2 linked regions of the Homo sapiens genome follow. The protein of the gene in region 1 purifies or fractionates together with the protein of each later gene. This does not show direct contact. Each region holds a gene or a part of one and is shown on either strand. Other genes may lie near its edges.

Evidence for each region.
Region 2: the proteins of SRBD1 (region 1) and NBEAL2 purify together in Homo sapiens (tandem affinity purification; one large-scale study listed by IntAct). This does not show direct contact.

The regions. Positions count from the first base shown.
Region 1 is NC_000002.12:45,604,573-45,608,418, forward strand, and holds part of SRBD1 (S1 RNA-binding domain-containing protein 1), read right to left. Parts: intron 870-3,846; coding exon 790-869; intron 1-789.
Region 2 is NC_000003.12:47,000,166-47,003,665, reverse strand, and holds part of NBEAL2 (neurobeachin-like protein 2), read right to left. Parts: coding exon 3,262-3,500; intron 2,666-3,261; coding exon 2,487-2,665; intron 2,388-2,486; coding exon 2,228-2,387; intron 1,978-2,227; coding exon 1,840-1,977; intron 1,747-1,839; coding exon 1,378-1,746; intron 1,296-1,377; coding exon 1,146-1,295; coding exon of another isoform or gene 1,132-1,145; intron 1,022-1,131; coding exon 864-1,021; intron 710-863; coding exon 585-709; intron 493-584; coding exon 357-492; intron 1-356. UniProt on the Homo sapiens protein: Probably involved in thrombopoiesis. Plays a role in the development or secretion of alpha-granules, that contain several growth factors important for platelet biogenesis.

The sequences.
Region 1 (3,846 bases):
CTTGCTGTTCCCTGAACACACCAAACTTATTCCTGCCTCAGGGTCTTTGCACTTGCTGCTTTCTCTATTTGGAACACCCATCCCCAAGATCTTTGCAAGCTGCACCCCCAAATCTCATCTAGATCTCTTGCCACATCTTCCGCAATAACTTTCTGACTACTCTATCCAAAATGCCCCCCGACTGCAACCACTCACTATGCTCTCTATCCCCTGCCCTGTTTTATTTTTCTTTATAGTACTTATTACTATAAATATTACCAGTCATTTACTTAACAAATATCTTCAGAGCACCTAATATGACTCTAAAGCAGAGATTCTCAACTGGGGATATCTAGCAATGTCTAGAGACATTTTTAATTGTTATAACTTAGCAGGAAGCTATTGGCATCCAGTGGGTAGAGGCCAAGGATGCTGCTAAAAATCCTACAAGAAAAAAGATAGCCCCCACAACAAAGAATTGTCTTGCACACAATGTCAGTAGTGCAGAGGTTGAAAAATCCTGCTCTAAAGCAATATATAAAACTCTATGCTCTCATGGAGCTTATATTCTAGTGTAAGTATTATGTTACATATTTAGTTGGTTACTTTCTCTCTCCTTTCGATACTTTATTAGCAACACTAGACAGAACCTGGAACACAGCATGAGTTCAACAAATACTTGTTGCATGAATGAATAAAAAAAGTTTTTTCTACCCACATCACTTAAGGAGTTAGAAAGTGACAGAATGCATTACTCCTTATTAAAATATTCATCATTCCCCTACCCACATATTAAACCAGTATGCTTACAACTCAGAGAATGAAGAAAATTCATCTTTCAGTACCACATCCTGGACCTGTACTTTCGCTCTTCTTGGCAATGATGACATCTAGAAGAAACAGAAAATAAAATCAGCAACACTTGAATATTCTTATCACTTTATTTGGCTACAAGTAATGGGTCATTCAAAACTAACATTTCATAGGAAAAAAACAAAAACAATGATGTTTATTCACAAGCCCAAACATCAGTTTCCTCTGCTATGTAGCTGCCAATTAAAAGAGTAGCTGGCTGGGCACCATGGCTCATGCCTGTAATCCCAGCACTTTGGGAGGCCAAGGAGGGCGGATCACCTGAAGTCAGGAGTTCGAGACCAGCCTGGCCAACATGGTGAAACTCAGTCTCTACTAAAAATAGAAAAATTAGCCAGGTGTGGTCGTGGGCACCTGAAATCCCAGCTACTGGGGAGGCTGAGGCAGAAGAATCACTTGAACCCAGGAGGTGGAGGTTGCAGAGAGCTGAGATTGCATAATTGCACTCCAGCCTGGGCAACAGAGTGAGACTCGGTCTCAAAAAAAAAAAAAAAAGAAAAAAAAAGAGTAGCTAACAGCCTTCCAATGGTTTAAAACTCTTAAGAGTATGGGCCATCTTTTAAAAAATATAAACTCCTACAGGGTGACACCTGTAGGAAAACTGTGTGCTTCATTTTTTAAGAATTGTGTGCTTAAGTATTCTGTGTTATTTTATGGTAATAATATCAGGCAGCCCCTTACAAAGTCCTTTATTAAACTATATCTCAAAGACAGAAACATTTTTTTCCTATTCTTTTTTTTTTTTTTTTTTTGAGACAGAGTTTCGCTCTTGCTGTCCAAGCTGGAGTGCAATGGCACGATATTGGCTCACCACAACCTCCGCCTCCTGGGTTCAAGCGATTCTCCTGCCTCAGCCTCCCTAGTAGCTGGGATTACAGGCATGCGCCAACACACCCGGCTAATTTTGTATTTTTTAGTAGAGACAGCATTTCTCCATGTTGGTCAGGCTGGTCTTGAACTCCCGACCTCAGGTGATCCGCCCACCTCGGCCTCCCAAAGTGCTGGGATTACAGGCATGAGTCACTGTGCCCAGCCTATTCTATATATTCTTAATGAATAAAGTAGAGGTCTCTCTACAAAGTTGGCAATGAAATAAATGATGCTGATTGACTGAGTAAGCAGCCAGGTTATTCTTAAAACAAGATAATCATTCCCTTATAATAAAAGTTCATTAAACTTAAATAAAATGATTAATCACTATGTGACTAAAAACTATTTACCAAATTCGAAGGCCAAGCTGTAAAAAAAAGTTAAGACAAATAACCAGAGACATCACATAATACGGGAAAGTAAATAAAATTACTTTAGCTGTTAAGATTAATTAGCTGTTAAAATTAATTAATAAAGGACTTTATAAGTGGCTGCCTGATATTATTACCATAAAACCATCAAACTATAAGGACTACACTAGGCTCTGACATGTTTGGAACCCTTTAAACAAGTTTCTGACCCAGTCATATGTTATAATGCCTCTGGTTCTAACATCCGCTTAGAAGAGGAAATAATCTCTCATGGAAATACTAAAGGGGTTGTCACAAAAGGGAATATGTTCTCCCAGCAGCTATAGCTCAACTCAGTCCAGTAAGTACACAATGATTGGGCAAAATAGTGCTCAGAGGGAACCAAAAGAACAACAGGAAAGCAGTCTGCAGGAAGTAGACAGGATAATCTTCCATCTTTCCCTTCACTCTCTTTTTGGCATATTAGGTTATAAAGATCATCCTTTCTCAAATTAGTATTTTTTAGACATTGATCATGAAAGAACAGGTAATTGTGATTTTTATATTATGTGTATCTTACCACAACAAAATAAGAATGGAGGAAGTTAGTGTATGACAAGGGTGGCATTTAAAATCAGGGCAGGGTAAAAATGGATTATTCAATAAATGGTATTGAGACAACTAGCTATTCCTCTAGAAGAAAAAAAGGAGTTTAATTCCTACCTCCACACCATTAACAAAAATTTATTCCCCAATAACTAATAGTTTAAAATGTACAAATTAAAACTATAAAAGAACTAAGAAATAAAGGTGATTCTTTTCACACTATTGAGGGGAGATGGGGAAATGGAGGTTTTCCTAAATATGACTCCTCAAAATTCCAAAACCAAAAAGACTAACAAATTGCAACACATAAAAATTAAAATCCCAAGCCAGTAGTGGGAGCATATGAGAACCAAACCAATTTACCCTGCAGTATTCTAAAAAAAAAAAATTCATATGAAGCAGTAGCTGATACCTTTGGAATTAAAGGTGAAACGGGTTAGGGCTGTGTATAAACTGACAAAGGAATATCTCTAAGTGTCCTACCTCACTTCATGCTATTAGGCAACTGCCCCAGGAAAAAGACTGTAAGTTTATTCTCTGGAGAAGGTATTAATGAAACAGTCTAGACTGTGGGCATGGGAACCATACAGACTGAATGCTAAAGGCAGAGAACCCTAGTCTTCCGCCACTAAATTCCTAAAATACTGCCCTCTAGGGAGGAGAATGGGAAGGCTTTTCTCTGGAGAATCTAACCAGTCCAAGAGTAAAAACTTGAAGGTGCTAAGCTTCCCATCAAACAACCCACCCAGATCACCTTACAATCACTCCTACCACCACATTCTACAATATGCCTGAATTCAGAACATTCCCACACAGACTACCATATACTAATTCTATCTCCACACTTCAGCCTTAACAGAAATGTGTTTAAAATAGGGACAGGCAAACCCTTGGCAGGCTTATGTTTTTGCTTAACCATTATCCTTAAAGAAGGCTCCCCTAAATCAAATATTTCCAACTGCCTCTTTATAAGGCACCCCGAAAGCAATATACCATGGAAAGATGAGTGAGTTGTAATATTTCTTTTCACAAATGTTAAAAATATCAATGTAAAAGGAAAGGTGGGAAAGCAGAATCTGCATGAACACACAAGCCAATTTCAAGCAGATCAGATTTAGAAAGAATATATACAAAAGCTGAAGACTTGGAAATTATGTCTTTAAAACTA
Region 2 (3,500 bases), on another chromosome or scaffold:
GTCCCAGCCCCTGTCCCCCACCTGCCACCCACTGGGCTTCTGAATATTTTGCCAGGATGCCAACCCTTGTCCCCTGCTCCCCTCACCCAGCCCCTGCCCACTCCCTGGGCCCCCTTCCTGCTCTGGTTTGTGTTTCTCAGTGCTGTCCTCAGGTGCCTGGCTGTTAAAAGAGCAACTCTCAGCCCTGTTAGGAGACTCTCCCACTCACCATCTGGCTTTGGACAGTCCCTTCAGGGGGACGTAGTCGGGCAGCAGAAGAGGACACACTCAGGGAGTTGATCCCACAGAGGCATGCACACACTGGAGCAGACCCCTTGCCCACCACACCAGTCCAATCTCTCCAGGGCCCCACTCACGGGGTCTCCAGCTCAGCCAGCTCGTCCTCGCCGAGCTGGTCCTCCTGCAGCAACTCGGGTGGGGTGCTCACTTTGGCCTCTTTGGTCACTGCCAGAGGCAGTGAGGCCTCCTCGGTGGGTGTCAGGGGAACCTCACCTGCAAGGGGCCAAGGGTACTCAGCAGAAGCAAGGCAGGACAGGAGACGGGACAATCGAGTTGGGTGGACCCATCTCAGCACACTCCCTCACCCAGATTGTCTCGGAGAGCGCTGGCTTCCAGGTGAGGGTCGAAGTGATGGTTGGGCACCAGCTTCAGACGCATGCGTGAATATGTCTCGGCGCTGGACAGTTTCCAGCGGGGGATGGGAGTGTCCCTGCAGAATGTCCCCCAGGTCATGGGTCGGTAGAAGGCTGTAGACACCCCCATCCCTCCCTGGCCTCACCCCAAAGGCAGTCTGGGGCTCCAGGTGGCTCCCTCCCTCCCAAGCCCCACCCCTCCACAGCGACCCTGCCCCAAGCCCGGCCCACCTCAGCGCCCAGGCCCCACATGGGCTGGCGAGCTGGCGCCACAGCGCCCCCCAGTGCAGCAGGGCCATGGAGTGCTGCGTTGCCTGCTGCTTCAGCACTGCCGTGTAGCGTAGCCCCTCCAGGCGCGCCCGCCTCTGCGCAGGTTCCAGCACCAGCTCCTGGGGTGGGGGTAATAGGTCAGTCCCCTGGCTGCTGCCTGCCCTACCCGTTTCTCCACATTGTCAGTCATCTCCTGGGTGCATGTGTGGAGCAGTTTCCCATCCCTTACCCCGGGTGGCACACCTGGAAGGCCCGACGACTCTGGGCGCGCTCCCACTGGCGCCGCTGCCCACTGCTCATAAGCATGTCATAGCAGGCATTCCAGAAACCTGACATAAGGTCGTGGCTCTTAGCATACGTGTCCATTTCGAACTGGGACATGGTTGGCTGTACCTGGAGGATTGGGCAGAGGAGAACAGTGCTCGATGTGGGCCCCAGCCCCCACTCCTCTTCCTGGGCCCCAACCTCCAGGCACCTGTTTGTCGATGAAGTGGCGCCATTCGGGTGTGGCACAAAAAGCCTGGAAGTCTTCAAAGAAGGTGGGGCTGCCATTGGTGGGTGGCAGGGAGGGCAGTCCCCACTGCAGCCCCAGCGGCTCATAGGCACGGTCTAGCAGCGTGCGCACCAGTGGCACCAGCCAGGAGCAGCGCTCTGCAGCTGCTGCAGCTGCTGCAGCTGCAAGTGGGGACCCTGCCTCATCAGTGGCTGACTCCAAGGAAGAGGTGTTCAGCACCCGCCCCAGTGCAGCCTCCAGCTTGGAGAGCACATAGCAGGCCTCCTCGCGGCGGGCTGGCACTGCAGTCTGTAGCAGCATGTGCAATCTCACGTAGGCCTGGGCATGCAGCTGTGGGCGCAAGAGAGATGAGTGGCACCCAGCCACTCTTGGAGCTCCCGACATCTCACACGCCCCCTGCCCCCATGCTCACCCTGTGCTCACCTGTGGGTCTTCCAGCAGGATGTAGCCAAGTACAAGCCGTAGGCCAATCTGCGCCATCTCACGGAGATCAGCTGTGCCGTTGGCCAGGTGGGGCCAGGCTCCCAGGCGATCAAGTAGGCTGCATACACCTTCAAAGAGCTGCCACAGAAAACAGGTTCCCAACAGACATCACCAGGGGAGGCCAGGAGTCCATGGAAAGGGAGCAAAGTAAAGTTTGCGCTGGGGGCCAGGTAGGGTTTGTGCACACAGGCAAGTCCACACTCACAGGCATTCATGCTGATGCACCCACACCTGCGCACGTGTACCCATCCACCTCCCAGACCAGATCCCTGCAGGCTTGCATGAACATGAGTGTTCATGTGGCTCACGCCTCTCTGAGGGGTCGCACCTTCTCACTCCACAGTTCCTGGTTACCATGGCCTTCAGCACACAGGAAGTCCTGCAGCAGACGCAGCAGCCAAAGCGCTTGCTGGGTGAGGCTGGCCAGGACCCCCACGGGGGCCTCTTTGATGTCGGTCAGGGCTGACTCCAGCATCATCTCCAGGAGGCTGGCGGGTGAGTGGGGAACTCAAGGGTCTACCTGACTATCTTCTCTCCTTCCCCCGAGGCTTCCTGAAGCCCCTCCCCCTCCAGACTTTCCCTCTCACCTGCGCTTGATGCAGTCTGGTGGGCGCACAAGTGTGGCTGAGGCCCCCAGCTGGGTGAGCACTGAGAAAACCTGGCCACGCTCCCGCCAGGCAGCCTCATCGCTGCCTTCCACGCCACGCCACGTCACCGAGAACAGCACGTTGGTGAGCAGATTGCACAACTCTTCCTCAGAGGTTTGCTGTGGGCACAGGTGGGTGGTGTGGGCGTGGGTTGTGGGCGGCTAAGGGAGGGAATCAGGCTGACGCCCACCCATCCCCACTCAGCACCCCTCCTGGGGTAGCCACCCAGGAGTCAGAGCATTTGGCTAACAGTGAGCCTGGCACTAAGGGCCTGGAAGAATGGTATAGGGGTCTCAACTACTACCTGAGTTCCAGGCAGAATCCTGGGGTCTTGCCAGACTCCCAAGAGGAGATGAGGCAGTTCACATAGAACAAGCAGAGGCCCATCCCCAAACCCAGAAGCCCAGGGCAGGGCCTTTGGAGTTTGCTGCCCTTGGACCCTGTGAGGTGTCTGCCCTACAGGCTCTCTTGAGGGCCCTTCTGAAGCCTGGCTGGTGTCACCCACTGTGGCTCATCATGACTCACCCTGTTCCAGGAGCCCTCTGGGAACACAACTGCAGATGAGAGCTATGAGGGGACAGCAATAGGCCTGACCAGTGGCTGCAACCCTGGTCAGACAGGGCCACACCTTTGGAGAGGCTACACTGCCAGCCCTGTGTACCAGAAGTGTCCTCCCTTGGGTACCATGCAGTGGCAGAGGGTGGGCCCACCTCACCTGTGGGTTGCTGGTGTTCGAGGTATCATCCCCGCTAATGGTGGGCTCCGGGAGGCTGCCGTCCTCCAGCACATTGGAGAGACTGGAGCTGTGGCGGCCAGGAGCAGCAGGAAAGGGCCGCGGCCCATCCAGTGGCGAAGGAGTGCCGGGCTGGCTGGCTGGAGTAAGAGTCCCACTGCTGCCGCCACCACCAGCAGTGTTGCCTGATCCTACACTAGACCGTTCCAGGCCCAGGTCAA